4 separate regions of the Homo sapiens genome follow, and regions 2, 3 and 4 are each linked to region 1. Evidence: fine-mapped expression QTL. A gene starts in region 1. Each other region holds a variant in brackets. All regions are shown on one strand. Distances are between the middles of the regions.

Region 1 (7,654 bases):
GGTGTGGTGGCGCAGGCCTGTAATCCCAGCTACTCGGGAGGCTGAGGTAGGAGAATCGCTTGAACCCTCCAGGAGGTAGGAGATGGAGGTTGTGGTGAGCTGACATCGCGCCACTGCACTCCAGCTTGGGCAAGAAGAACGAAACTCTGTCTCAAAAAAAAAACAAAAACAAAAACAAAAAACAAAGCTTCATGGGGTTGAGAGCAATAGAGATCATTGCTGGAATCACATATAATCTTAAAACTTAAAAAATGGACAGGAAATAATTTTAAAAGAAAACTGACAATTTTTTTTTTTTTTTTTTGAGACGGAGTCTCGCTCTGTCGCCAGGCTGGAGTGCAGTGGCGCGATCTCGGCTCACGACAACCTCCGCTTCCCGGGTTCAAGCCATTCGCCTGCCTCAGCCTCTCGAGTAGCTGGGACTACAGGCACGTGCCACCACGCCCAGCTATTTTTTTTTTTTTTTTTTTTTGTAGTTTTAGTAGAGACGGGGTTTCACTATGTTGGCCAGGATGGTCTCCATCTCTTGACCTCGTGATCCGCCCGCCTCGGCCTCCCAACCAAGTATTTTTAAAAGACAGGTAAAGGGGAGCAAGGAATGAAAACCATAAAACCATATGGATTGACTATATCACCTGTCGTAGTGGAAAGGGTCTCACAACCAAGTGAGAACAAGCAGATTTACATTCCAATCCTGGTTCCACAGCCTGGGACCCAGCACTCACCTTCTTTTGGTCTAATTTCCTCATCGGTAATTTATTTTATTTAACTTTAAAAAATTTTTTTTATTTTTTTGCAGATAGGGTCTTGCTTTGACGCCTAGGCAGTGTCGCAATCTCAGCTCACTGCAACCTCTGCCTCTGAGGTTCAAGCGATTCTCCTGCCTCCTGCCTCAGCCTCCGGAGTAGCTGGGACTACAGGCGCGCGCCACCACACCCCGCTAATTTTTGTATTTTCAGTAGAGGCGGGGTTTCACTATGTTGACAGGCTGGTCTGGAACTCCCGACCTCAAGTGATCTGCCCACCTCGGCCTCCCAAAGTGCTGGGATTACAGGCTGAGCCACCACACCCGGCCGGTTTTCTCATCAGTAATTTAGATTTTAAAGTTCCCTTTAAGATTACTTGAATACTTAAAGTCTAAGCTTTTCGATTCTTTATTTCTCAATGAGGTTAAGAAAGGAAGTATTTCATGGCCAGGCGCGGTGGCTCACGCCTGTAATTCTAGCACTTTGGGAGGCCGAGGCGGGCGGATTGCCTGAGATCAGGAGTTCGAGGCCAGCCTGGGCAACACGGTGAAGCCCAGTCTCTACTAAAATACAAAAAATTAGCCGGGTATGGTGGCGTTGGTCCCAGCTACTCAGGAGGCTGAGGCAGGAGAATCGCTTGAACCCGGGAGGTGGAAGTTGCAGTGAGCTGAGATTGTGCCATTGCACTCCAGCCTGGGCGACAGAGCAAGACTCCGTCTCCCTGCCATCCTCCCCCCCACCCCCCCACCCCCCAAAAAGCAAGGAAGTATTTTAGGAAACCGGACAGGAAATAGAACCATTAATAAGGAGAATGTCATCATTCACAGAGTGCCAAAAATTCATCTGGGATGAATATGCAGCTCCCAGTGCTCTTCACTAATTCTTATGTACATGACTTGATTAACAGTTAAAGAATATCCTGGTCTCCATTTCTGCCATTTTAAAAGTAAGTAACCATTAATTACAGAAGCGTTCCTAATAGGTGGTAAGGTGGTCATCTAGGGTATAGCTAAGGGCCAGACTCGAGTCAATTAGAATCCTGGGACCTGTCAAACGCAGTCCTGCGGAGCAGCCTTCAGACAGTGAATCTATAAAATGGATGGTTTCTTTCTTTCTTTTTTGAGACGGGGTCTCCCTGTCACCCAGGCTGGAGTGTAATGGTGCCATCTCGGCTCACTGCAACTTCCCCTTTCCGGGTTCAAGGGATTCTCCCACCTCAGCCTTCCAAGTAGCTGAGATTACAGGCACCCGCCATCATGCCCGGCTAATTTTTGTATTTTTGTAGAGACGGGGTTTCACCATGTTGGTCAGGCTGGTCTTGAACTCCTGAGCTCAGGTGATCCTCCCCCACTCGGCCTCCCAAAGTGTTGGGATTATAGGCGTGAGCCACCGCGCCCGCCCGGATGAATTTTCAAATAGAAACAATCCAGTTTCCCACATCACACGGAGATTGTGTGGATGGGTAATCCATGAAAAGCCTGGTGCTGGCACTCAGTCCCAATAAATGTTAGCTAAAAATTAGGAACTTTTCAAAGGGATGAATGTGCTTTCTAATAGAAGTAGCTGCCAGTGACATCTTGGGAGCCTCTTTTTAAAAGCAAAAAATTATTTCATCTTAAATTTTCACAAGTTCAGATTTTTATGTACCTGATTTTAACGGAGTATGAAACAGCTTGCTCTCGTAGTTACTCACCGTCATATGTTAATCGTATCATTTCTGAGCTGTTTTTTGATTTTACAAACCCTTAAATTAAGAAACGGATTAGGAACCGCCCATTAACACTGTTGGCAAATGATTTAAAATCAGGGTTGCTGGTTTTTCTGTGATAATCTATCGGCTTCAAGACGCACAGATCTCACTTTCATGGAAAGAAGTTGCCTGATACAGTTTTCCACCGGAGAGAAAAATAAAGGCTGGTACTTGGAACCTGCAAGCCGTGCATTTGGAACCTCGGACTCAAGTGCCTATTACGTAATTCCACAGCGTCCCGGCCTCCAGGCCGTTTCCCGAGCCCTCCAGCGGAGCGGGGGATAAGGTTACCACGCCCGCGGTGGCCGGGGACACTCTGAGTTTCGCGTGTGGCTTTTAGGGACGTTTATATTTGAATTTCCCTGAACCGCCGAGTGTGGGCGGTGGCGCAGATCCGTCCCGGAAACCTCCGGGCTCCTTCCCGCCTTTCTCAGGCCCGGCCCCTCCAAGGGGTCCCCGCGGGGCGGCGGGAGGGCCCTGGGCCCAGAGCCGCGCGGGTGGGCAGTCCCAGGCGTCCTTCCTTACAGCCCTGAGCCTGGTCCGGGAACCGCCCAGCCGGGAGGGCCGAGCTGACGGTTGCCCAAGGGCCAGATTTTAAATTTACAGGCCCGGCCCCCGAACCGCCGAAGCGCGCTGCCTGCTCCCCATTGGCCCATGGTAGTCACGTGGAGGCGCCGGGGCGTGCCGGCCATGTTGGGGAGTGCGGCGCCGCGGCCCGCGCCACCTCCGCCCCCCGCGGCTTGCCTCCAGCCCGCCCCTCCCGGCCCTCCTCCCCCCGCCCGCCGCTCCGTGCAGCCTGAGAGGAAACAAAGTGCTGCGAGCAGGAGACGGCGGCGGCGCGAACCCTGCTGGGCCTCCAGTCACCCTCGTCTTGCATTTTCCCGCGTGCGTGTGTGAGTGGGTGTGTGTGTTTTCTTACAAAGGGTATTTCGCGATCGATCGATTGATTCGTAGTTCCCCCCCGCGCGCCTTTGCCCTTTGTGCTGTAATCGAGCTCCCGCCATCCCAGGTGCTTCTCCGTTCCTCTAAACGCCAGCGTCTGGACGTGAGCGCAGGTCGCCGGTTTGTGCCTTCGGTCCCCGCTTCGCCCCCTGCCGTCCCCTCCTTATCACGGTCCCGCTCGCGGCCTCGCCGCCCCGCTGTCTCCGCCGCCCGCCATGGCGACTGCGACCCCCGTGCCGCCGCGGATGGGCAGCCGCGCTGGCGGCCCCACCACGCCGCTGAGCCCCACGCGCCTGTCGCGGCTCCAGGAGAAGGAGGAGCTGCGCGAGCTCAATGACCGGCTGGCGGTGTACATCGACAAGGTGCGCAGCCTGGAGACGGAGAACAGCGCGCTGCAGCTGCAGGTGACGGAGCGCGAGGAGGTGCGCGGCCGTGAGCTCACCGGCCTCAAGGCGCTCTACGAGACCGAGCTGGCCGACGCGCGACGCGCGCTCGACGACACGGCCCGCGAGCGCGCCAAGCTGCAGATCGAGCTGGGCAAGTGCAAGGCGGAACACGACCAGCTGCTCCTCAAGTGAGTGCTAGCTGGCGGCCGCGTTAGCGCCAAGGAGGGGCGGGGGCGCAACCGCGGCGACCAGCTCACCGGGTTCTGCCGTGGGGAGGGAGCAGAGGCCAGGATGCACGCGTCCTTCTGAAGGAACAGGGTCTCGGTCTCCGGAAAGGAGAAAGAATCTAGAGTTCATAGCGGAGCAGGGGTCGCGGAGGGGGCTCGAGCTGTAGCGCTGGGGGGCCGTGATGCCCATTTCTAGATTTTGGATACCCGCTGGGACGTGGTAAGTGCGCGCCTGGGACTGCCGAGAAGGAGCTCCCGCTTTCGCACTCGAATCCGGGGAGCCGGCGCGGAGAGGCGGCCCCTCAGGCCCCAGGTGCGGGGAGCTGGAGCGCGAGCGCGCGCTCGCGTGCGCGCCCCAGTTTCCGGCCGGCGCGAGACAAAGCGTCTAGCGGATTTGCAGTGCCGGGATGGGCGGCCGGGGAGGACTGGCAGCCCGCCTCTAGAATGAATGAGCTTCGCGCGGGCAGAGAGAGGAAGGGGAGGGACCTTCCCGCAGCATCCGCGTCTCCTGGGGGTGGGTCCCGCTTTGGCGCGCTCAGTCTTGGCCCTGTGACGTTTTGCGAAGATTCTACGCCTGCTTTAGGCGGGAGAGAGAGGCGGAGCTTGATCCGTGCGCCTCCAGCCAGCCCCGGGCAAGTTAGGTTTGCTAGCTGGTTAGCTTTCTCTGGGGAAATGTGTCCTGTCCCAGCGGGGATGGTGCGGTCCCTCGGGTGGTTCTGCGCAGGGAAGGAAAGCTGGGTTTGTGCATGTCACGGCTACCGTTCTTAGAATTGCGGTTCTCCTACCCCTCAGGCAGCGGCCCTCTGTCCCCAGCTTTTGCCTCCTCGTAGTATAGTCAGGCTTTCGGGTAGAGACTGTGCTTAGTACCCCTTAGTCGACCACTGTGCAGATAGTAGACCAGGGCAGGTGACAGGGTGCTGTGTAAATGCTGAGTGTTTGAGCGAAGGAGAGTTTGTAATTCACCTAAGCGAGTGCGAGTTTTCATTCCAGTGCACAAGGATACATTTGCAGACCTTTGCTGGCCTTATTTTGACTTTCTGATAAGCAAAATGGCCTGTCATCAGTAGGCAACAAGTGTTGATGTCATGCTTTAGAGATTTGCAAAATTTGGGTCTGAAATTCATGGTCGCCATTAGCACTGCCAGCTGAAATTTCTGGAGGTACCTTATTCTCACTTTGACACCCTTTGCCCCTGGATGTCTTTCTGTCTGTATCTGCGTGAATGTCCCTGTCCGAAGTCTCTGAGATTTTGTGTATTTTTACTTATCCCTCCTATCATATGTTTTCGGTTCATAAAAAAGCATGTGCACGTGGTAAGAATAAAATAGTATAGACTGGTTTGTAGCGAAAAACGATAACTGCACTACCTCTTTCCGGAGGCAATCACATTTATCCCTTTTTGTTTTTATTTCTTTGGATATTTAGTTATACAACTCGAAAATAATACTAAGCTTGTATTTCCCTTTCTTGGATTTACTAAGCCTTGGTTTCATCTTTTAAAATGAGCAGTCAGTTAACTCACACTATTATTTCTATGTTCCTCCAAATTTTTTGCCACTGAATTCCTTCAAATCTTAGATATCGTTGCTTGTAAGACTTGCCATTATTATGTGTACCACTAAGAAAATAAAAACATCAGGACCAACTGTGTAGGATCCATCCTGTTGGACCCATCATGATGGGTTTCATAGATATTAAAATGTCAAACAGGGCCGGGCGTGGTGGCTCACGCCTGTAATCCCAGCGCTTTGGGAGGCGAGGTGAGCGGATCACTTGAGGTCAGGAGTTCGAGACCAGCCTGACCAATATGGTGAAACCCCGTCTCTACTAAAAATACAAAAATTGGCCGGACGCGGGGGCTCACGCCTGTAATCCCAGCACTTTGGGAGGCCGAGGCGGGCGGATCACGAGGTCAGGAGATCGAGGCCATCCTGGCTAACAAGGTGAAACCCCGTCTCTACTAAAAATACAAAAAATTATCCAGACGTGGTGGCATGCATCTGTAGTCTCAGCTACTTGGGAGGCTGAGGCAGGAGAATCGCTTGAACCCAGGAGGCGGATATTGCAGTGAGCTGAGATTGCGCCATTGCACCCCAGCCTGGCGACAGAGTGAGACCCCATCTCAAAAAAGAAAAAAAATCCGGGCGTGGTGGCGGGCGTCTGTAATCCCAGCTACTGGGGAGGCTGAGGCAGGAGAATCGCTTGATATCCAGGAGGCAGAGGCTGCAGTGAGCCAGATGGTCCACTGCACTCCAGCCTGGGTGACAGAGTGAGACTCCGTCTAAAAAAAAAAATTAACACAGATCAAATATCTGTTGCGTACCAGTCACCGTTCTATGTTAGAGGATATGAAGATTTTTTTAAAAAAATGAATTACTGTTCTTTGTTGCTGAGAGTGTAGTGGGGGAGCTATATCCCAGCAAGTAAAGAAAGATTGTCTTTTGTCTGATGTGAAGCATTTTGATGCTGGCGCTTTTGTAATCTTTCCAGGAGTTAGCCACAGGAGGTTTTTCACACAGTAACAAGGCTGCCACCTGGCTGACAGTAGTTGTAAATGTATCGATTCTAAAATGCATGCTGGTTTCAGCGGGGTTAAAAAATGAGAATAATGTGTATTAGAATCAATGAAATAATGCATGTGATACAATTTAGGTAATAGCAGATGCTAAGGGAATAAAAATAAAGCGGAGTGAAGGGTTAGTGTGATTAAGGAAGGCCTGTCTGAGGAGTTGACAGTACCTATTCTCTGAGGGTTAGTAGTGTTCTGGGATTATATTTTTCTTAAGTCTGTGCTACTGTATGTATATTCCTATTGCCAGGATTAGATGACTCTTCTTTTCCCCCCAACATACCATCATTTGCTCAAAACATGCCACATTTTAGTTTGCTCCTTATTTGAATTAGGACTTTTTTTATATGGATTTATTCCTCAATAGCTTTTCATTTTTCTTGTTAAGAAAAATTTGCCCTCAGTGTGTTTGCAGACTTTTTGAAGATATTTAATCATAATATCTATCACATGAATCTGCTTTCTTCCCTAGAGTTCTCTTTGCTTAAGGTAGGCTGTGTACTGATGTCCTGTAACTTATTAAAGACAGCTTCCTGGCCAGGCACGGTGGCTCACACCTGTAAAGCACTTTGAGAGGCCTAGGCAGGTGGATCACCTGAAGTCAGGAGTTCAAGACTAGCCTGTCCAACATGGCGAGACCCCGTCTCTACTAAAAATACACAAATTAGCCGCGTGTGGTAGTGGACGCCTGCAATCCCAGTTACTGTGGAGGCTGAGGCAGGAGGCATTGCTTGAACCGGGGAGGCGGAGGTTGCAGTGAGCTGAGATCACACCACCGCACTCCATCCTGGGTGTATTTTCCTTTTCCTTGGTTTCTTCATATTTTGTTGAAGAACATCCTTAAGTAATTTATTCAGAAAGGATGGCAGGAGGTAAACTTTCTGAGTCCTGTATGTCTGAAAATAGCTTTGGGCTAGGTATAGAATACTAGGTTAACATTTTTCCAGAACTTGGAAAGTATTATTTTGCCCTATTGTCTTCTGGCATCTAGGGTTGTTAATGTCTTTCTTTTTTTTTTGAGACGGAGCTTGGCT
Region 2 (7,654 bases), 78 kb after region 1:
GCTTGTCTCCACCGTGTGGAGGTGCCGGGTGCCTGGTTGGGTCTCTCTGCATTTCTGGCAGGAAGAAGGCATTTGTGAATACTGTCAGTACTTGTGACAGGTTGGTCACATTGGAACCTTTGCCCCTGTTGTTTAAAACCGAAGAAGACTGTGACTGTGGAGGTGCCCCGTGTGCTCAGCGCTCAAATGGGAAATGGAGAAGATTCCCGGAACGTGTTTGGCAGTCACTTCTGAGTTTTCCATTGAGACCCGAACATGAAGAAAATCTTCTGGCTCCTGCCAGTTGGCCAACCTCTGTCTGCCTTCCCCAGCTCACAGGGCTGCACACTGCATTGGGGCTGTCCTCCGCTGCTGGAAAATCACGCCGGTGCTCTTCACAAACACTGAACACTGGCCCTCTGCTTGATCCATGGAACCAAGATGACAGGATCTCCTGCCTGTTCTTGATAACAGCTGTAGTTTTATTTCAGATTTTCATTTAAACAAATAGTTTAAGGCCTCAGCTGGGAAAGAGGATTGAAGTATCCCCAATGGACAAAGCCTCTGGCACGCCAGAAAGACATGTGACTAAGCCTGAGTGACTTTCCTTCCTTCCCCTCCCAGGTTGCTGGGAGAAATAACTATGGGTTTTTGACAACTCTTTCCCAAAATGAATAGTGGAAGGCTGGGAAACACTGAATTATGAAATAAAGCAAGGCAGTTCATTTTGTCATCCTTGGCACCTGAATCCTAAACTACGGTAATGAGATCAGCCCCTTAACGGAGTACTCCAGGGTACCTTGCTCTTAGGCAATTTGTTTTTCTGTGTGTGCTCTTCAACAGACTCTGCAGGAAGTGGCTGACTTGATGCAAATGACTTTTTTGTTTTGTTTTGTTTGAGACAGAGTCTCACTCTTGCCCAGGCTGTAGTGCTGTGGCACGATCTCAGCTCACTGCAATCTTCACCTCCTAGGCTCAAGAGATTCTCCTGCCTCAGCCTCCTGTAATCCCGGGATTACAGGTGTGTGCCACCACACCTGGCTAGTTTTTGTATTTTCAGTAGAGACGGGGTTTCACCATGTTGGCCAGGCTGGTCTTGAACTTCTGACCTGAAGTGATCCACCTGCTTCCGCCTCCCAAAGTGCTGGGATGACAGGCGTGAGCCACCGCGCCCAGCCTGATTTTGGAGGGTTATAGTTGGGAAACTATTTAGTGCGCAGATATTGTCTCTGTGGTAAACGAGGAAACTGACAGGATTCCAAAAGCCTGCTGTTTGAAGGGGCTCATTCAGTTCCAAAAAGAGATGGGAGAGGCAGGAAACGTGAACATATGTGCTGCCTGCCCTCCATTGGTTTGTTTAATAACAAATTCACCCTGTCTGGGCTTGTGACCCCCCTCTCATGTTTGGAAGCGCTACTGCGGGGTTGTAGAGACAAATGAGTCATTTTCTGAGCTCTAATCCTGACCCCAGAGGGGCATGTGGCCACTTCTCCCTGACTTTTCCCGGGGGTGACTTGCTTCCGACACCTGCCGCCTTACTGTTTTTCCTCCTCAAGCAAGCTTGTTGCAGGCACTTCTTCCTTACTTGGTGCTGAACTTAGCCACAAGGAGCTGTCATCACGAGTGTGGGAGAGGGAGGAGAGGGGATCACAGGGGTTTCAGAGGGCTCACTTTGAGACTTGCTGATACTGACAACAGAGTTGACCTGGCCCAGGATTCTTCTAATGCTGCGTGTGACTGTGTGTCTGTGCCATAGTTTTTCAGTGTGTATTCATGCATGATGTATGTGTGTGGGGTGTTGGGGGTGGGGGGAGGGCAAGAGCGTTATTTTCTGGGTCAGAATAACCTTTTAAAATGGTAAGTTTTCCGCTAGGAGAGGAAACCCATTTTGCTCATCTGTCTAGATGTTTTTCTTCACCTGGGCCATGGAGGGCTTTGTTTCACAAGCTTTTCTCCTGTTTCGTCGTTCAGGTGGCAGAGATCGTTGCTCCGCCCTGTGACACACAGCCCACCCTCCATGTCCCACGTTGGGATGGATTACAGAGGATGTGCCCTCCTAGTGGCCCCCGCCAGCCACCAGAGTGAAGTTGATGCTTGGGTGCTATTGTGTCGGAAATTGGTGGGTTCTTGGTCTCACTGCCTTCAAGAATGAAGCCACGGACCCTCGCGGTGAGTGTTACAGTTCTTAAAGATGGTGTGTCTGGAGTTTGTTCCTTCTGATGTTCGGACGTGTTCAGAGTTTCTTCTTTCTGGTGGGTTCGTGGTCTCGCTGGCTTCCGGACTGAAGCTGCAGACTTTCGCGGCAAATGGTTATAGCTCTTAAGGCTGCGCTCTTGGAGTTGTTCATTCCTCCCGGTGGGTTCGTGGTCTGGCTGGCCTCAGAAGTGAAGCTGCAGATCTTCGTGTTGGGTGTTACAGCTCATAAAGGCAGTACAGACCCAAAAAGCGAGCAGCAGCGAGATTTATTACAAAGAGCAAAAGAAAAAAAACCTCCGCGGCAGGAAAGAGGACCTCACCTGATTGCCACTACTGGTTCGGGCAGCCTGCTTTTATTCCCTTATATGGCCCCACCCACATCCTGCTGATTGGTCCATTTTACAGAGAGCTGTTTGGTCTGTTTTACAGAGAGCTGATTGGTCTGTTTTGACGGGGTGCTGATTGGTGTGCTTACAATCCCTGAGCCAGACACAAAAGTTCTCCAAGTCCCCACTAGATTAGCTAGACACAGAGCACTGATTGGTGCATTTACAAACCTTTAGCGAGACACAGAGTGCTGATTGGTGCATTTACAATCCTCTAGCTAGACATAAAAGATCTCCAAGTCCCCACCTGACTCAGGAGCCCAGCTGGCTTTGCCTAGTGGTTGCGGTGCCAGGGCTGCTGGGGGAGCTGCCCGCCAGTACCACACCGTGCGCCTGCACTCCTCAGGCCTTGGGTGGTTGATGGGACCTGGTGCCTCCTACCAGGGGGCGGCACCCGTCCGGGAGGCTCAGGCTGAGCGGGAGCCTAGTGCAGGGGCCGGGGGGGGGGGGGGGGGCGGGGGGTAGGGCATGGCTGCTTACAGGTCCCCAGCCCTGCCCGGCTGGGTGGCAGTGGAGGCCCGTCGAGAATTTGAGCATGGCACGGGCAGGCCGGCTGTGCTGGGGGACCTGGCGCCCCCCTCTGCAGCTGCTGGCCCAGGTGCTAAGCCCCTCACTGCCCCCGGGCTGGGGGCGCAGGCCGGCTGCTCGGAGTGCGGGGGCCTGCCGAGCCCACGCCCACCCGGAACTCACGCTGGCCTGCAAGTGTGCGCCCAACCCTGGTTCCCACCGGCGCCTCTCCCTCCACACCTCCCCACAAGCAGAGGGAGCCAGCTCCAGCCTCGGCCAGCCCAGAGTGGAGCTCCCACAGTGCAGCGGCAGGCTGAAGGGCTCCTCAAGCGCGGCCAGAGTGGGCGCGGAGGTCGAGGAGGCGCCAAGAGCGAGCGAGGGCTGCCAGCACGCTGTCACCTCTCACTATGAACAATTGGCAGGACAGTCATGGTCTGGACCTAAGGAAGGTTTGCTCAGGGCTGACCTACCCACGAGCAGCTGCTCCTGGCAGTCTGAGCGCCTTTCATATTTCCTGTATTAACCTTGTGGCGCACAAAGACAGCATCGAGAACAAGCTAATGAGAATCATCCCTCTCATCATGGAACCCGCATCCCCTGCCTCAAACCAAGCCATGTGCACA[C/T]GCACACTTGATGATAGCAGAATCGAGGCATCTGTTGACATTTGTCTTCTTTTTGTTTCTAGAGTGTGGTGGGATGCCTCCATCACTGTAGCACTGTCAGATGGGCGACAGCCTTATCGGCCGCCTCCAATCTCAGCAGGATGTGGGTTTTCTTTTTTAACGGGATGCTCTGAAGCCCTTTTGTCCGTGACCAAAAGCATCATTCTTGGCACTGAGCCTGAGGCCTCTTCTCTGACCTCTGCTTCCCTTCCCCTATCTACAATTACTGCACAGTCAGCCCATTGCCTTACTGTACTACTCTGATCATGTTTGATTTCATATACTTAACATCTCTATGTAAAATGACCAACCTTGAGCCTACAGCCTATGAGCTATAGGCTCCCTTCTGCTCAGCAACCAGTCCCTGCAGAGCAGTGAATTCTTTTAGAGAGAGCGTATATCAGGCAGCAGTGCCCAACTCTTTTTTTTTAAATACAAGTGATTTCACAAATGGAAAACTTAAACCTATATAAAACTGGAGAGTAGTATAATGAATACCATATACACATCACCTGAAGTCAACAATTACCTACATGTGGCCAATCTTATTTCATCCATACTTGCACCTTCTACTCTGTCATCTTTTGGATTATTTTAAAGTGAATCCCAGATATAGCATTAATAGCATGACTTTTTTTTTTTTAGTTTGTAATACAATTTTACTCTTCAGAATATACTAAAGATAATATTTACATATGCGCTGTATGTCACATAATATTCTATTTTCTCCTGTTCACTTTATTGAGGTATAACTGACAAAAATTTTATGTATTTATGATGTTAAATGTGATGTTTTGACATATGTATACATTGTGAAATGATTACATCAAGCTATCTTTCTTGTGGTGAAAACATTTAAGATCTACTTTTTTTTTTTTAGCAACTTTCAAGTACACAGTACATATTTTATTTTATTTTTTATTTTTGAGACAGAGTCTCACTCTTTCGCCCAGGCCAGACTGCAGTAGCGCTATCTCGGCTCACTGCAAGCTCCGCCTCCCGGGTTCACACCATTCTCCTGCCTCAGCCCCCGGAGTAGCTGGGACTACAGGCGCCCGCCACCACGCCTGGCTAATTTTTTGTATTTTTAGTGGAGACCGGGTTTCACTGTGTTAGCCAAGATGGTCTTGATCTCCTGACCTCGTGATCCGCCCACCTCGGCCTCGCAAAGTGCTGGGATTACAGGCGTGAGCCACCGCGCCCAGCCTATTTTATTTTATTTTATATTTTATTTTATGTTTGAGACAGAGTCTTGCTCTATTGCTGGTGTGCAGTGGTGAGATCTCCACTTTGAGACCAACCTGGGCAACATGGCAAAACCCAGTCTCTACACACATACACACACAAAATTAGTCAGGCTTGGTGTTGCACACCTGTAGTCCTAGCTACTTGGGAGGCTGAGGTAGGCAGATCACCTGAGCCCAGGAGATTGAGGCTACAGTGAGCTGTGATCTCACCACTGCACTCCAGCCTGGGCAACAAAGCAAGACCCTGTCTTAAAAAAAGAAAACAAAACAAAAAAAACAAAAACCACCCCAAAACAAGAAAACTGAAGTCCCTTGACTTTTGCAGACCATGGCCGAGACTGATTCTTAGTCCTTCTCATCTGGGATGAAGCAGATTTACTAACAAATGTTAGATTTTTTCCTCTTCCTCCTAAGAGCTCCCACAATGCAAAGATTCTGTGGAGCTGCAAAGGTTGACCCGGCCAGAGCTGCCCACGACCCTGGCGTACTGTCCAGAATGGTGCATGCTTCTGGGGAATCTCTCCTCACATAGCAGACCTCCTAACTCAGGACTGCTAATTTTGCTGTAAGATGTTGCCCACGAGGACTGAGTCCTGGGCCCTCACACAGACTCTAGAATAGAGCCACCAATACCCAGATGATAGAGTCTTAGATGGCTTCCCTAGACTCTCCTTATCTCACCTCCATGTCTGGGCCAGCTCAGCCTGGTCTCCCTGGGCTCCTAGTGGCTGAGAGGCCCTTATAGAGGCAAGCCTTGAGTGAGCAGGGCACCTATCATGTGGTGTCTTATGGACATGGCTGAGCCGTGGGCACCCTCAGCTGCCAAACCAGAGGCATCTAACAAAGTTTCAGCCCTGCAGTTACGAGGCAGGGGGAGTGACAAGGAAGGTCAATGATGGAGAAAACCCAGTGACATTTTATACATTAGCAAAGTTAATTGCCAAGTGCCCAAAAGCCTGTCTGAGTGTACTGTTTAAAGGCCAGGAAAACACGGTTCCAGTTCTTACATTGTAAAAGTAATGCAGCTGACCCTTTGCTGGTGATATCCCCACCGCAGGCCTTCTTGCCGCCTGCCTGGCCTCCCTGGCATTGGCTGCACTGGGACCGGTGTTCTGCAGATCTGCCCTCTTGGTGGCTTCCAGACATTCTCTCTCACAAATCTCAAGACTGACTTAAAAAAAATTCCTAACGTCAGCAGTCTTTAAGCCCCCTGAGAGTAAAACACAGTTCATATGTCTACTGAGCATTACTTATTTGCAGCTGGGTGAAAGTTACGGCTGCCTCCTTTCTGGCACTGGGGAAGGGATGAGAGCCAGGAATGCTGTGTGGGTGTCATTTTTATGTAAGACAGACCCGTGCGGTGCAGGCTTTTTCCTACCAAGCACTTCACTGCTTTTGGTAAACACAGAGTCCCCATGAACCAGGGAACCAGATGAGGCTACCTAGAATTTTAGAATAAAACAGGATTTAACAAATTTCAACATTATCATTTTTAAGAGCGCAATCCTTTTCTTTCCAGTGAAATCTAGCCCAGATCCCCACTCTATAAAGCAGAGAGAAACTGGCTGAATGGGGCCAAGGCACCAGAGCCAAGGTGATTGGTCTCTTTCCCATGGCCTGTCCCCATGGCAACTGCAGGATTCCAAGAAGGACTTTTGGAGAAGTGCTGATGGCATATAGTATGGCAAATTTACCCTGACTTTTGGCCCCCTTCCCCAATCACCCGTGCAAGCGCCAAATAAGTGAGATAATGGTTGGTGAGTCTGAGAAAAAAACCAAACCAAACAAAACAGGGAACACGGGGGCTACAGAAGGTGCGGGGGGAGAACAGGACACTACACCTAGGGGACAGGTATGGGCGGAGAGTAGCATCCTTGTCTCCCTCCTGTGAAATGCTTCTCCATGGAAGCATCACACCCCAGAAAACAACCAATAGCAATAGGTGGCTCCGGGGCAGCAGGGTAAGATTAGGGCTGCATTCTACCCACACGGGGGCAGGTGCATACAAAATACGTGCAGGCAGATCTGCCAACCGCATGGAATTTCCTCTTCCCCAGCCTTCTCCTCTTCAAAGGCGAGCTGACTGCAATTCAGGGAGATGGAACTTCCGCCAGGATGGAGGTATGTGGCGGTTCCCTGAGGGCACAGTCACATGCTAACTGTGGCAAATGGGGAGTGGCCGAGTCCAAACGGCAACCCCAGAGGATCTCCCACCCTCAGTGTGTGCCCCGCCCTCCCTGCTGACCCACCAGGGATTCAGCTCTTCTCACCCTGAATACTCACCACTAGCCAAGGTAGTCAAGATCCGCAGGAGAATATGAGATCACAGGGAAAATATAATGAGACATGAAAAAAGGTGGTAGTGGGCTGGGCACGGTGGCTCATGCTTGTAATCCCAGCACTTTGGGAGGCCGAGGCGGGAGGATCACTTGAAGTCAGGAGTTCGAGACCAGCCTGGCTACTGTGGTGAAACCCTGTCTCTACTAAAAATACAAAAATTAGCAGGGTGTGGTGGTGGCTGCCTGTAATCCCAGCTACTCTGGAGGCTGAGGCAGGAGAATTGCTGGAACCCAGGAGGCGGAGGTTGCGGTGAGCTGATTGTACCATTGCACTCCAGCCTGGGAAACAGAGTGAGACTCCATCTCATAAAAAAGAAAGAAAGAAAGAAAAAAGGTGG
Region 3 (7,654 bases), 33 kb after region 1:
GTATTAATTTCTTAGTTCCTGAAGGTCAGAATTCAGAGCTGCTAAACTGGGTGGTTCTGTTTCTTGGTCCCATGAGGTTGCAGTACAGCTTTTAACCTGGGCTGGAGGAATGGCATCTGAGCTCTTTCACAGGGCTGTGGGCAGGACGTGTCAGTTCCTCACCTCATGGTCTTCTTCATAGGGCTGCTCATGATATGGCCCCCCTAAGGGTCAGTGATGAGAAAGAGAGAGAGAGAGAGAAAGAAACACAACGAGAACATGAATACATGCTACCAGCTACCAAGGCAGAAGCCAGATTGTCTTCTATAACCTAATCACAGAGGTTACATACCATCACTTTGGCCTTCTCCTATGGCTCACATCTGGAAATGCGGCTACTCACAGCATTTATAGGCGTGTAAATTTTTTTTTTTTTGAGACACGAGACCCGCTCTGTCGCCCAGGCTGGAATGCAGTGGCATGATCTTGGCTCACTGCAACCTCTGCCTCCTGGGTTCAAGCTATTCTCCTGCCTTAGCCCCCCTAGTAGCTGGGACTACAGGCGCATGCACCCACGCCCTGCTAATTTTTTGTATTTTTAATAGAGACGAGGTTCCACCGTGTTAGCCAGGATGGTCTCAATCTCCTGACCTTGTGATTGGCCCGCCTCAGCCTCCCAAAGTGCTGGGATTACAGGCGTGAGCCACCGTGCCCGGCTCACTCATGTGGAAATCTTAAAATATCACTTATAAGCCTTAACTGCTGTGGTCAAGGGGCAGGGGCAAAACCGTTGTCAAACAAAGGAAGTAATAAAATTGAGGAAAGGGGAATGTATATTTCATGAAAATTGTAGAGGGTTGAAATCAACTCATGGGGGAGAACATGCTGTTAATGTGCTAGGCTTAATGTTTTTAGAAGTAGTGTAATTTTGAAAACAGTGCAAATAGGAATTCATTGTAGCAGTTAGCAAACCAGTTTTTTAGTTGGAGGAAAAATAATAGAAATCTGATTATTTTTTAAAATTACAGGCTTTAAACAAAATAGATATTAGTGCAAGGTGCACCAGACAAGCAGTCAGACCTTGGACAACTCTTAGTGTCAGTTTCTTATTTAAAATGAAATACTAATACTGCTATTTTTTTCTTCAATGAGTGGTAAGGATCAAAGTGGAATACTGTGTGTGAAAACTCTTTGGATACTGTAGCAAGTGCTGTCATATAATTGTTACTAAGTGTTGCTTTGTTAAAGCAGATATTTTGATATGAGGTTGACTTACATTTTTGTTTTGTTTTGTAAAAATTGTGATTTATCATTACTTATTTCTGATGTTGTGTGTAGACAACCAGGAGTAGGGTTTTTTTTCTTTGTAAGGTCACTGGTTCTATATAAAAAATAGCATCAGTAAAAAGTAATTTAATATTTTTAGAGTGCATAGCATCTTTGAATTTTTGGCCTTTGCCTTTTTGAGAATGGATGTTAAGATAGTCCTCTTCAGTTTTGTTTTTGTTTTTGTTTTTTTTAACTCTTTTTGGAGACAGAGTCCTGCTCTCTCGCCCAGGCTGGAGTGCAGTAGTACGATCTTGGCTCACTGCAACCTCCACCTCCTGGGTTCAAGCGATTCTTCTGCTTCAGCCTCTGGAGTAACTGGGTCTACAGGCATGTGCCACCATGCCCGGCTAAGTTTTGTATTTTTAGTAGAGACAGGGTTTCACCACATTGGCCAGGCTGGTCTCGAACTCCTGAACTCAAGTGCTCCATCTGCCTCGGCCTCCCAAAGTGCTGGGATTATAGTTGTGAGCCACCGCACCTGGCCTTTTTTACTTTAAAAAAAATTTTTTTGTGTGAGACAGAGTCTCACTCTGTTGCCCAGGCTGGTGTGCAGTGGTACGGTCTTGGCTCACTGCAACCTGTGCCTCCTGGATTCAAATGATTCTTGTGCCTCAGCCTCACGAGTAGCTGGGATTACAGGTTCACACCCTCACAACTGGCTAACTTTTTTTTTTTTTCCTTACTTTTTACTAAGTAATACCATGTTGGCCAGGCTGGTCTAAAACTCCTGGCCTCAGGTGAGCCACTCGCCTCAGCCTCCCAAAGTGCTGGGATTACAGGTGTGAGCCACTACGCTGGCCTTAACTTTTTTTTTTTACATTCATGATATATATTCAGTAATAATATCTAACTTCCTTATTATGAACAGTTGGGGGAAAAAAGGAAGGAGAAAGACGAAAGAGGAAGGAGGAGGTAGACAAAGAACAAACCATTAGCAGTCACTCTTCAGTATTTTTGTGATTTAGGTATTATTTGCTTCATGAAATAGATGTGATCTCTGGGAAGGTGATAGCAGAATCCTCCTGATTTTTCTGATTTTTCAGATTTTGTCAAGTGCATGCTCCTGTGTAGTAGTTAAGAGAAAGATGAAGAAATGCAAAGGAAAATACATGCGCTAATATACACAAACAGCAACTTTGGTGGGTTATACTTCCCTCTTGTGGCTTCTTCAGATATTACCATTCTAATTATTATTTTTTTTTTTTTGAGACGGAGTCCAGCTCAGCTGCCCAGGCTGGAATGCAGTGGTGCGATCTTGGCTCACTGCAACCACCGTCTCCCAGGTTCAAGTGATTCTCCCATCTCAGCCTCCTGAGTAGCTGGGATTACAGGCACCCTCCATCATGGCTGACTAATTTTTGTATTTTAGTAGAGACAGGGTTTTACCATATTGGCCAGGCTGGTCTTGAACTCCTCACCTCAGGTGATCTGATTGCCTTGGCCTCCCAAAGTGCTAGGATTACAGGCGTGAGCCACCGCGCCCAGCCTTCCATTCTAATTTTATTTAGACACTTCCTTAAAACAGAGTAAAGGAAAGGATCATGACAACTACTTCTATTCTTCAATGGTAAATTTTTCATAAATATTTGAGTTAGTCAACTAATATTGTTAATAAGATCCTGTGTCACTTGATAATGATAGCTTAATACCGGCTTTTAAAGAAGTCATGTAAATTAGCTTGTGCTGCCTATTATTATGTCTAAGAAAATGGTTTTATGGCTGGGCAAGGTGGTTCACACCTGTAATCCCAGCAACTTGAGTGGCTGAGGCAGATGGATCACCTGAGGTCAGGAGTTTGAGACCAGTCTGGCCAACATGGGGAAATCTCATCTCTACTAAAAATACAAAAATTAGCTGGGCATGGTGGTATGTGCCTGTAATCCCAGTTACTAGGGAGGCTGATGCAGGAGAATTGCTTGAACCCGGGAGGCGGAGGTTGTAGTGAGCTGAGATCATACCATTGCACAACAGCCTGGGCGACAGAGTGATACTCTATCTCAGAAAAGAAAAGAAAAGAAAAGAAAATAGTTTCATTTCACATAAATCTTTACATGAATTTATCACAACTGTTAAGTTTAACTTTCCATGTGCTGTTTTTTCAGAGATGTTCTTAAGATTATCAATGAAACAATTCAGAAAAATAATTTTTGCTTAGTGTTTAGTATAGTATACTGTGTATAAATCCTTGATTGCAGATAGTTTTAGTAGGCCATCCAGGCCTTTCCTTGGCTTCAGAAAAATAAATAGCTATGCTCCTGAAAAGGAATAGAAAGTTCCTAAGGCTTGAGATGCTACCACTTCTGTCATTAGTTCCATTTCAAAAACCTCAACTGAAAACTAAGAGGCAAAAAAGTGTTTATTCACATGACCGCCTGAGGACAAACAGGAGGA[A/G]GTTCGTGTGTAAAACTTCAGATGGCTGTGATGTCACTCAGATGTGTACCAATGCAGCCATGGTAAGTAGCTTGGCTTTATGCTTTTTGTTTTTTCCCCAGGAGATTAACGAGACCAGAAGGAAGCATGAAACGCGCTTGGTAGAGGTGGATTCTGGGCGTCAAATTGAGTATGAGTACAAGCTGGCGCAAGCCCTTCATGAGATGAGAGAGCAACATGATGCCCAAGTGAGGCTGTATAAGGAGGAGCTGGAGCAGACTTACCATGCCAAAGTGAGCTCTCTTCAGAAGATTCTTTTGAACACTTAAAATCATTACTTCACAATTCCCATGATGAACATGGCTTTATGTTTATTTTGTTCTAGTTTTTAAAAATGATTCCCCTAGTCTCCATGAAATATATAGAAAATTGATTTTTTCAAAAAAGTGCAGTTTTCTATAAACTAAATGTTATTAAAAATTACTAGAAGAATGTAGGGTTGTTGCAATTTTATTAGAGGTTAGGTTTTGTCTTTTTGTCCCATTGATCATTCGTACTATGCCATAGTAGTTGAACCCAAACCATGTGAAATAACTTTCTTCCAATAACAAGTACTGATCATGCTGTCCTACATAAACATCCATTTAGTAATGAATGAATGTCAGACTGCATTAGATCTCACTTTCATGTCATCATTGTGCATAGATTGTGACTACCACACTTCCGGCTTTTTTGCATAAGGGCCAAATGGAAAGTCTCTGCTATTTCTTCTTCTGTCACTATTATTCACTTAAAAAAATATTGTAGAAACTTCCCACTTATATTAGCTGACCTTACAAGAATTCATAAAAATCACCAACTAGTACAGGCTTTCCCTGGTAAATGATTTTGCCTTGTGTTTTAAATGTTACATGATTTGATTAAAAAGACTTTTTTGTGGTTGACTTAGAATATTAGAGTCACAGAGTTATTGAAAATTTTCATTGCATGGCTTTAAACTGTTCATGTTGCTTTTTATCTATTGTATGAAGTAGCAGTTAGTGAAAGTGAAAGATCTTATTATAAGCAGTAACTTCAGTTGTATAACATTTATCTAATATCACACATTGAGCTATACAGTGAAGGAGCTAAAGTAAGGATCCGTCACAGACTGTGGCCTCACAGGGAGCCAGGGAGGAGACACAGGAGCATGTCCCTGAGACACACATACACAATAGTGTTATGGGATTTGTATTTTACTCAAGGAGTTTTTTTTGCTTCTGAAAGGAAGTGTTTCTATCTGGTTTGAACGAATCTATAAACTAGTATTTTCTGCTTGTTGGTTTACATTCTGTATTGGATTTGGTGGGTTAGGGATATGTGATGTTTCTTTTCTTACAGACACCACCACAGTCAAGTTGCTATTGCCCAGTCTTCTTATTATCAGTGTTATCTTAGACATTAAAGGTTTAATAGATGAAATATTGAAGTAATAAGCTTTGGGTAAAGGCCTAGGTATATTAGCATTCTTAAAGCTCATTATTTAGGAAGTGACTCTAAAAGTCACACAGAATTACCATCATTCACACCATATCAGCAAACTTCATGATGCTTTTCCTGTGTTTCATCTACCAGTTACCAGCAGGACTTAGGTTTGAAATGCCTTGAGGTGAATCATGCTTCCTTTTTTGTTTCAGTTCTAGATAAGACTGACTATGCTTTGCTTCTTCTTTTAGCTTGAGAATGCCAGACTGTCATCAGAGATGAATACTTCTACTGTCAACAGTGCCAGGGAAGAACTGATGGAAAGCCGCATGAGAATTGAGAGCCTTTCATCCCAGCTTTCTAATCTACAGAAAGAGGTAAATAATCATCTTTCTGTAAGAAGTTAGACTTGAAGGCTACCTTCACCACGGGCACCTACCTGCTTTGCTTGGGCTGATGTCACTCCTCCCTCTGTTTGTTACAGAGGATGGTGTCATCCTGTGCTTTCGTCTTCACAGTACTTTTCTAGATTCGTTCATTTTGCATTGCATAAACATCCTGTGAGCAGATACTATTGTTCCTAATTAGTAGATTACACAGAGCTAAGGGACTTGCCCTTGAGGAAGGAGCCTGCTAGTTTATTCACTGTACTTACCCTAGGACCCGGATCTTCCGACCTGTCTAACAGCTTCATCTCTACAGAGTTATTCTCAACACCTTCCTTTTTTATATCATTTGAAAACCAAAATGAAGAAAAACATGCAAAAATTCTTTGTGGGTGGTGAATGCTTTGTGTTTCTAGACAAATTCTTTAGTGCTTAAAGTATATAACAATTAGGATCCAGGAAAGTAGCTTTAATTTGCATATTCCGATAAGAATTTAGTGACTCATTCATTCGTTGGTACGCCTAAGTGACAAATGGCATTATTGCCGGCTGTGTTGACTGGCTGCCTATCAGGGTGTGATGGTGTGCTTCAGGTGCTGCTTAAGCAGGCATGGACACTACTTCAGATCAGTTTTAGCCTAGGGTGATGTCAGTGTGGACACAAAGTACATATACTCCATATACTGCATTCAGAATGATTCAGCAATTAACTCGTCACCTTAATTATTTTGGAAATAACTTCCGCTTCTATTTTCCTCAAGGGAGGAAATCTTGTTTTGAATTTTCCACATGAGAATAAACTTTATTTTACTTTTTTTTTTTTTTTTTTTTTTTTCTTTTTGAGATGGAGTCTCACTCTGTCGCCCAGGCTGGAGTGCAGTGGTACGATCTCGGCTCACTGTGAGCTCCGCCTCCCGGGTTCACGCCATTCTCCTGCCTCAGCCTCCCAAGTAGCTGGGACTACAAGTGCGTGCCACCACGCCCGGCTAATTTTTGTATTTTTAGTAGAGACGGGGTTTCACCGTGTTAGCCAGGATGGTCTCGATCTCCTGACCTCATGATCCACCCGCCTCGGCTTCCCAGAGTGCTGGGATTACAGGCGTGAGCCACCGTGCCCAGCCTATTTTACTCTTGATTGGGCTTTTCTTCCTTCCTTTTTCTTTTTACCATTTTTAGTAAAATATTTTTCTAATTATAAAACTGATGACCTCTGTTGCAGGAACTTAGAAATAAAGCAGAAAATGAGTCCCATAAAATGGGGTGATATAAAATAATTTAGTTAACACAGGGGCTTTTACACTGTCTATCATGTGCTTTGTTACTTACGGCACAAATTTTTAAATTATTTTAAACCTATTTTGTGCTGATAGTGTTTTGAAGATTTTCATTTAATAGCAGAGCTGGAAGCACCTCTGAGTTCATTCCATGTAACCACAGATCTAGGTGAGTTTAATGATTTGCCCGTTGCCCAGAGGCTGCAGACTGATAAATGGGTTTCTCTACTCCTTCCCAGTTTTTCCTTTTATAACTCATTTTCTTCAAAGAAGATTTACTTTTAGAAATTTAACAGATAATCTTTTTTTCCATTGCACCATCTGTCTTAGTCCTTTTGGGCTGCTATAACAAACTACTATTGACTTGGTAGCTTATAAACAACAGATATGTCAGAAATTATTTCTCACAGTTTTGGAGGCTGGGAAGTCCAAGATCAAGGCACTGGCAGATTGGATATCTGCCTGGTGAGGGCTGTTCCCCGATTTATAGATGGTGCCTTCTTGCTGTGTCCTCACATGGTTAAAGGGTGAATGAGCACCCTTGGCCCTATATTATAAGGGCATGAATCCCATTCACTAGGGCTTTCCTCTCATGATCTAATTACCACTCAAAGGCCCTACCTCTTAATATCATCACCTTGAGGGTTAGGATTTAAACATGAAATTTGTGGGAACACAAACACACAGACTGTATCACTGTCTTTGTTTTTCTTGTTGTTTTTTTTTCTTCTGAGACAGAATTTCGTTCTTGTTGCCCAGGCTGTAGTGCAATGGCGCAATCTCGGCTCACTGCAACCTCCGCCTCCCAGGTTTAAGCAATTCCCCTGCCTTAGCTTCCCTAGTAGCTGGGAT
Region 4 (7,654 bases), 23 kb before region 1:
AGGCAATGCCGTAATTGCTGATAGGCTTAGTGGGTGGGGGAGAGCCCTCTCCTGTCTGGCTCCTGCCTATCCAACTACCTGTAGGTAACAATAAGACTCACTCACTGAACTTAACGAAAAAACCTCTAAGAGATGTTTGAAATTTGCATTTAGACCAGGAAATGTGTGGTCTTATAAGACATCCTCACAAAAACGTAGGACTAGGAGTTCTCTTAAGATCGTCTAACAATTATTTGAGTGATAAAGAACACTAGGCCAGGCCCAGTGACTCATGCTTGTAATCCCAGCACTTTGGGAGACCGAGGCGGGCAGATAATCTGAGGCCAGGAGTTCGAGACCAACCTGGTCCAACATGGTGAAACCCTGTGGCAGGCACATGTAATCCCAGCTACTGGAGAGGTTGAGGCAAGATAATTGCTTGAACTCGGGAGTTGGAGGTTGCAGTGAGCCGAGATCAAGCCACTGCACTCCAGCCTGGGCAACAGAGCGAGACTCCATCTCAAAAAAAAAAAAAAAAAAAAAAAAGGCCGGGCGCAGTGGCTCACACCTATAATCCCAGCACTTTGAGAGGCTCAAGGCAGGCGGATCACGAGGTCAGGAGTTCAAGACAATCCTGGCCAACATAGTGAAACCCTGTCTCTGCTAAAAATACAAAAATTATCTGGGCGTGGTGGCACGTGCCTGTAATCCCAGCTACTTGGGAGGCTGAGGCAGGAGAATCACTTGAACCAGGAAGTCGGAGGTTGCAGTGAGCCAAGATCGTGCTGCATCACTCCAGCCTGCCGGCAGAGCAAGACTCCGTCTCAAAAAAAAAAAACCAAAAAAAAAAACAAAACACTAATTGAGAGAGTAGAAGTCAATGAAAGGATGTTCTAGTTAGCTACAGGTTGGAACTCTAACCCAAATCACCATTTGCATTCTTAATATGCCCCCAGTTTCAGGCGATTTCTTTTTGGGCACACCAGAGATCAGACAAATGCCATAATGCCTACTCTGCCCCAAATGGGGATTTTCAGGTATAGCAAGTGTAAATATAGCTTTTTCCAGAAGAAGCGGGGTTGGGTGGGAGGGGAAAATCACACAATTAATTTTCATGATAGAGATCCCAAGAAAGAAAGTGGAGGTGCTTACTGTGATTTCAGTTTAATTAGAAACACATCCTGAATGTTAAGACAAAACCAAAAGTGTTGGTTTCATTTGAACTTGAGAAGAATTGGAGACTATAGACTTAATTATGTTTCCCATCCCCATAGTAAACAATAAACACCTATTATGTTCTTCCAGAGTTAACCAAGTCTATGAGCCAATGTAATCAGTCCAATGAATGTGTTAGAATAGATACTACACATTTTGTGGGTGCTACTGCAGCTTGTATGTGTTGGCAGCAGTTCCGCTTTATTTCCTGCTGATTTTTTTTTTTTTTTGTACCTTCACTGCCATATAATGATTTAGGACTTTTGCTTCCTGAGGTCAGTGAGAACATTCATATCTGATACTTAACTCCAGAAGAAGATTCTTGTTTAGTTATGAGAAAGTGAATGGCTTTAGTGATGATTCGCAGAAATCTCCCAAGTGATGATGGAATTCTGAAAGGAAGTATAACGTATTTTTACTTAAAAACAAAAAAACAAAAAACAAAAAAACCCCACAAAAACTACCCAGGACAAAAAAAAAAAACATTTAAGTTAACAGACCTCATATTTCCCCCAGAGTCCTTAAGTGATTTTCTAAAACATTGTGTTAACTTACCTTCAAATAATTTAAAACACATCAGCTTTAAGAAAATGTGGCACATATACACCATGGAATACTATGCAGCCATAAAAAATGATGAGTTCATGTCCTTTGTAGGGACATGAATGAAATTGGAAATCATCATTCTCAGTAAACTATCGCAAGGACAAAAAACCAAACACCGCATGTTCTCACTCATAGGTGGGAATTGAACAGTGAGAACACATGGACACAGGAAGGGGAACATCACACTCTGGGGACTGTTGTGGGGTGGGGGGAGGGGGGAGGGATAGCATTAGGAGATACACCTAATGCTAAATGACGAGTTAATGGGTGCAGCGCACCAGCATGGCACATGTATACATATGTAACTAACGTGCACGTTGTGCACATGTACCCTAAAACTTAAAGTGTAATAATTAAAAAACAAACAAACAAAAAAAACACATCAGCTGTAGCTGTTTGGAGTTCTTGTACTTCAGAAAGGACAGTGGGAAGTGGCAGATGACCGTATGATCTTTATTTTACCATAAGCCAGAAATTCTGTGTTAGCACTGAAATAATATCATATTAAATATTTGTGCTGTATTATATTAAATTAAATATTCTCTGGTCACAAGGGACTAAAAACTAAAACAGCTTAAGCAAAAAACAAAAACACAAGGGGGTAGAGGCACTACTAGAATACCAGAGCAACCCTGAATCCGAGGAAGAGTGGGAGACCAGGCCTCAAGGGGACAGAAGCCAGGGCACATCTGGAGAACTCTGTGAGCATGCACTCATGCAGAGACCTTCTCCTTAGAGTGCTGCCTCAAGCGCTTCTTCATCAAAATGTCTACTTCCTGGAAAAGAGAAGCTAATTGCTCCTTCTTTGCTCGGGGTCACCTCTGGGCCAGTGAGCGATGATAATATGATAGGATAGAACCACACAGCAGAAACAAGGCTGAGAAGCATCCACTCCTGAGGACACATCAGGAGATTCTCAGAGAGCACTGGGGGCAGTGCATTGCCAACCACACATAGACTTTAATGTTATAATCATGTATTACAGCTAAAGGCAAGTTTTGCTTATTTTCTATATACAGTGATCATCACATTAACTGACATGCTCTTTCCTAACATTCTATTATTCAGCCTTAAAAAAAAAATTAGGCTGGACATGGTGGCTCACACCTGTAATCCCAGCACTTTGGGAGGCTGAGGCAGGGCAGATCGCAAGATCAGGAGATCGAGACCATCCTGGAGAACATGGCGAAACCCCATCTCTACTAAAAATACAAAAAAATTAGCCAGGTGTGGTGGCGGGCACCTGTAGTCCCAGCTACTCGGGAGGCTGAGGCAGGAGAATGGCGTGAACCCGGGAGGCGGAGCTTGCAGTGAGCCGAGATCGTGCCACTGCACTCCAGCCTGGGCGACAGAAAGAGACTCCGTCTCAAAAAAAAAAAAAAAAAAAATTAATTAAGGCTGGGTGCTGTGGGAGGCTGAGGTGGGCAGATCACCTGAGGTCGGGAGTTGGAGACCAGCCTGACTTACGTGGAGAAACCCCATCTCTACTAAAAATACAAAATTAGCTGGGCACAGTGGCACATCTGTAATCCCAGCTACTTGGGAGGCTGAGGCAGGAGAATCGCTTGAACCCAGGAGGCGGAAGTTGCAGTGAGCTGAGATTGCACCATTGCACTCCAGCCTGGGCAACAAGAGCAAAACTCCAACTCAAAATAAATAAATAAATAAAACACAAAAATTAGCTGGGCGTGGTGCATGCCTGTTATAGCAGCTACTTGGGAGGCTGAGGCGGGAGAATCTCTTGAACCTGGGAGGCAGAGGTTGCAGTGATCCAAGATCACTCCACTGCACTCCAGCCTGGGCAACAGAGCCAGACTCTGTCTCAAAAAAATAAAAGCGAAAACAGCTTTGTTGAGACATAACTCACATATTATAAAATTTATCTACTTAAAGTGTATAGTTCAATGGGTTTTGGTATATAAAATTATTAATTTTTAAAAATTGTGAAAAATAAAAATTATGGTAAAATATATGCAACAAAACTTGCCATCTTCACC[G/A]TTTTTAAGTGTACAATTCAGTGCCACTACTTACATTTATGATGTTGTGCAACCATTAGCACTATTTCCAAACTTTTTCATCACACCAAACAAAACACTTAAGAATATTGCTCTATTATAACTAGGCCTTTTTTTTTTTTTTTTTTTTTTTTGAGATGGGATCTCGCTGTGTCACTCAGGCTGGAGTGCAATGGTGCAATCATGGCTTCAAGGCTCACTGCAGCCTCGACCTCCCAGGGTCAAGCCATCCTCCAACTTACCTCAGCCTCAGCTGGAAGTACAGGTGAAAGTCATCACGCCTGGCTAATTTTTATATTTATTTTTATTTTTCTAGAGAGAAGGCCTTGATATATGTCCAGGCTGTATTTTCTTCCCCCTTTTTTTTTTTTTTCCGAGACGGAGTCTCGCTCTGTAGCCAGGCTGGAATGCAGTGGCACAATCTCGGCTCACTGCATCCTCCGCCTCCTGGGTTCAAACGATTCTCCTGCCTCGGCCTCCTGAGTAGCTGGGACTACAGGTGTGAGCCATCACGCCCAGCTAATTTTTGTATTTTTAGTAGAGATGGGGCTTCACAATGTTGGCCAGGATGGTCTCGATCTCTTGACCTCATGATCCGCCCACTTCGGCCTCTCAAAGTGCTGGGATTACAAGCATGAGCCACTGCGCCCGGCCTCCAGTTTTTTTTTTTTAATGGAAGCTTCACAGATTTGCATTATACTTGCACAGGGACCATGCTAATCTCTGTATCATTCCAATTTTAGTGTATGTACAGCCAAAGGGAGCACTATAATTAGGCTTAGACTAAAAGAGTTTTGTTTGTAAAAGAGGTTGTTTAATATCATCATCCTCTGCACATGGCTTTCCACCCCAGGTGTTCTTACAACCGCGTGCCTGAGCTTGGTACCTGAGCTGACAGCCACAGCCTTGCGGTGACTCCTGGCATGACCTGCAGGCTCCATTCTGCTCTGCTCCTCTCCACACCCAAAGAATGCAAGGCTGGAGCTCCTTTCTCTTCTGGAGACCTCAGGGACAGAGGAAATGGCAGCAGGCACATTGGCCAGAGGCCTTCAGATACAAGCCCTGCATTTTGCAAAAGAGTTTTGGGGCCTAGACCTCGATAAAGGGATGAGGTTTCCCTTCACTATTTCCCAACTGCCAGTGAAAGCCACCTCTCCCCCCGGGGCCCCTTCTCTCTCCTGCCGCCCCTCCCACCTGTCCTCTGCAGCCTCCCCACTCCCCCGTGTGTCCTCCTGGACACACCTCCCTGGCTTACACTAAGGAAAAATATACACATAAATTAATGATCTTATCTTCAATTAGATGTCTTTTGTGAGTAGTATACAGCTTATAAGAAACTATATTTCGTGCCCTGGTTCCTCTCTCTTTTTAATTCTTTTTTTTTTTTTTTTGAGACGGAGTCTTGCTCTGTCGCCCAGGCTGGAGTGCAGTGGCACCATCTCGGCTCACTACAAGCTCAGCCTCCCGGGTTCACGCCATTCTCCTGCCTCAGCCTCCCGAGTAGCTGGGACTACAGGCATCCGCCACCACACCCGGCTAATTTTTTGTATTTTTAGTGGAGACGGGGTTTCACCGTGTTAGCCAGGATGGTCTGGATCTGCTGACCTCGTGATCCGCCTGTCTCGGCCTCCCAAAGTGCTGGGATTACAGGCGTGAGCCACCGCACCCAGCCTCTCTTTTTTTATTCTAAGTCACTATTCCAGAGGCTCTGTGTCCCTTAGGGTTCTTTAGAATCAGTAACAGAAGTTGATTCTGGCATAAGCAGAAAAGGACAGTACTGAAAACATTTTGGGTAGCTCACAGAATCACGGGAGGGCAAGAAGTCCAAGGTCAAAGGAGGCTACATACCGGGGTCCCAGGATGTGTCTGAGCAGGTCATTGCTGCTGCCAAGAAGGAGGAGAGTCTACAGCTGCCACACTCACCAGCACGTAGGATCGTGCTGTCGTCCCCGCTGCCTTTTTTTTTTTTTTTTTTTCCAGAAATGGAGTCTTGCTCTGTCACCCAGGCTGGAGTGCAGTGGTGTGATCTCCACTCACTGCAACTTGGGCCTCACAGGTTCAAGCAATTCTCGTGATTTAGCCTCCCAAGTAGCTGGGATTACAGGCGTGCACCACCAAGTCTAGCTAATTTTTGTACTTTTAGTAGAGACATGGTTTCACCATATTGGCTGGGCTGGTCTCGAACTCCTGACCTCAAGTGACTTGCTCACCTTGGCCTCCCAAAGTTTTAGGATTACAGGCGTGAGCCACAGCATCCAGCCCTGACTGCCTTTTGAAACTGGGTGTGGCTACCAGAATGGATGCGCCTTTCTTCCATTGCTTTGACTGACTGGCTCCAAAGTCAAAATTCTGGAGCTAGGCATGGTGGCTCACACCTGTAATCCTAGCACTCTGGGAGGCCGAGGCAGCTGGATTGCTTGAACTCAGGAGTTTGAGGCCAGCCTGGGCAACATTTTTTGTCTCTACGAAAAAATAGCTGGATGTGGTGGTGCGGAGGTTGCAGTGAGCCAACATCATGCCACTGCACTTTCCTGCCTGGGCGACAGAGCGAGATCCTGTATAAAAAAAAAAATCTGGAGCTGGTACACCTGATTGGCGACACCTAGGCCTGCAAAAGAAATAGTTGGCTGACATGGGTGGATGGCTTTTTAGCATCTAGAGTGGGAGCAGGACCCTGTTTCTTACTAAGACTCAAATGGTGAGGAATTCCTCAAACGTAGGAAGACAGTTCAGAGGGTGAGCAACCAAAAAATTTGCAAATGTCTCCTGTAGGTAGGAAGCATCTGGTGTTCTGTTCAGATCTGGGTCACAGCATTATTTCATCTAACTTAGAAAACTATTCTAAACTAAAGTTGGTTTGCTTCCCTTTCCTTCTGTTATTAAAAAGATACACTTGGACAATTTATTCTACCAAGTTATTATAGCGAGGTAAAAATTCTGGCATCAAAACCCCATAGTTTTTTATAGTTTGTCTTCTTTTCCAAGTTTACATTGTTGCTTTTGAATACAACTGTGGAGCAAGTCTTTTCATAGTAAGCTTAGCTACAGCTTATCTCTAAGATTCTAATCGGATTCATATTCTAAGCCAATATTTACAGTTTTGAAATTTTCAAAGTTTATTTTCTATTTTCCTATTGCCTTTCCTTTTTTAAGCTGGCACTGTTAAGTTTTTAAAAGTGAGTGGCTTGTATTACTACAAGTTAGAAAAAGAGAAGAAAGAAGTCAGAACAAGAAAGAAGTATAGGGAAAAAACAATGTGTTTTTTTAAAAAAACTGAATCCTAGGTTAGCAAGAGATTTTTTTTTTTTTTTTTTTTTTTTTTAGTGAAACAAACATCAGTTTGTCCAGATAGCATTATTTCTCAGGCAAATAGGAGAATCATATTTCTTGTCTGGTGATAGCTAGTCTATATTTGTTTACTCATTAGAAAGTTCGCTGCTTATTCTGTGAAATCTCAAAATCTTAGTCTGCTTTGCTGATGTCCTATTTATTCTACATCTCTTTAATGAGTGAGGGATTTGAGCTGTCACTACTGTTTCAATTAAATGTCCCCTTTCACCATTTCCTGTGGCTTTATGGTGAAATACCCTACATTTACTGAATAATTTGGCATCTAATTTCTGCCCCCAAATCCTTAAATAAAATTGATGAGAGAGACTCAGTATAGGAATTAGATACCTGTTGATCATTAGACAACTGTCAATTACAAAATGGACTGGATTCCAGAGCTATTTTCCTGGATAGAGAGGAAAAGATGTTTTAGGTAAGATAACAGGGATCAGTGAAGGAGAGAGCATTGCTGATGGAGAGAGGAAGTAATTTGTGTAATCTCGTTTGAG

Evidence for each region.
Region 2: its variant is fine-mapped to the expression of LMNB1 in whole blood (INTERVAL, PIP 0.98).
Region 3: its variant is fine-mapped to the expression of LMNB1 in whole blood (TOPMed, PIP above 0.99).
Region 4: its variant is fine-mapped to the expression of LMNB1 in whole blood (INTERVAL, PIP above 0.99).

What each region holds. Positions count from the first base shown.
Region 1 is chr5:126,773,856-126,781,509 of GRCh38, forward strand. LMNB1 (lamin B1) reads left to right here and starts at 3,281. Exons shown (of 11, transcript NM_005573.4): 1 at 3,281-4,012. The coding sequence starts at 3,654. LMNB1-DT (LMNB1 divergent transcript) reads right to left here and starts at 2,631. Exons shown (of 4, transcript NR_134485.1): 1 at 2,440-2,631. RefSeq lists silencers at 2,058-2,107, 2,758-3,407, 3,608-3,687, 3,998-4,047, 4,258-4,367 and enhancers at 3,042-3,842, 4,858-4,947, 6,251-6,320, 6,331-6,420.
Region 2 is chr5:126,851,612-126,859,265 of GRCh38, forward strand. No RefSeq gene overlaps it. Among named protein-coding and RNA genes, the nearest start is that of LMNB1, 78 kb to the left of the region's middle. The variant C/T (reference allele first, on the strand shown) is at 3,692.
Region 3 is chr5:126,806,380-126,814,033 of GRCh38, forward strand. LMNB1 (lamin B1) reads left to right here. Exons shown (of 11, transcript NM_005573.4): 4 at 3,801-3,971; 5 at 5,394-5,519. Among named protein-coding and RNA genes, the nearest start is that of LMNB1, 33 kb to the left of the region's middle. The variant A/G (reference allele first, on the strand shown) is at 3,700.
Region 4 is chr5:126,750,836-126,758,489 of GRCh38, forward strand. LMNB1-DT (LMNB1 divergent transcript) reads right to left here. Exons shown (of 4, transcript NR_134485.1): 3 at 4,702-4,877; 4 at 1,128-1,586. It also overlaps the pseudogene RNU6-752P. Among named protein-coding and RNA genes, the nearest start is that of LMNB1-DT, 22 kb to the right of the region's middle. RefSeq lists a silencer at 3,405-3,571. The variant G/A (reference allele first, on the strand shown) is at 3,798.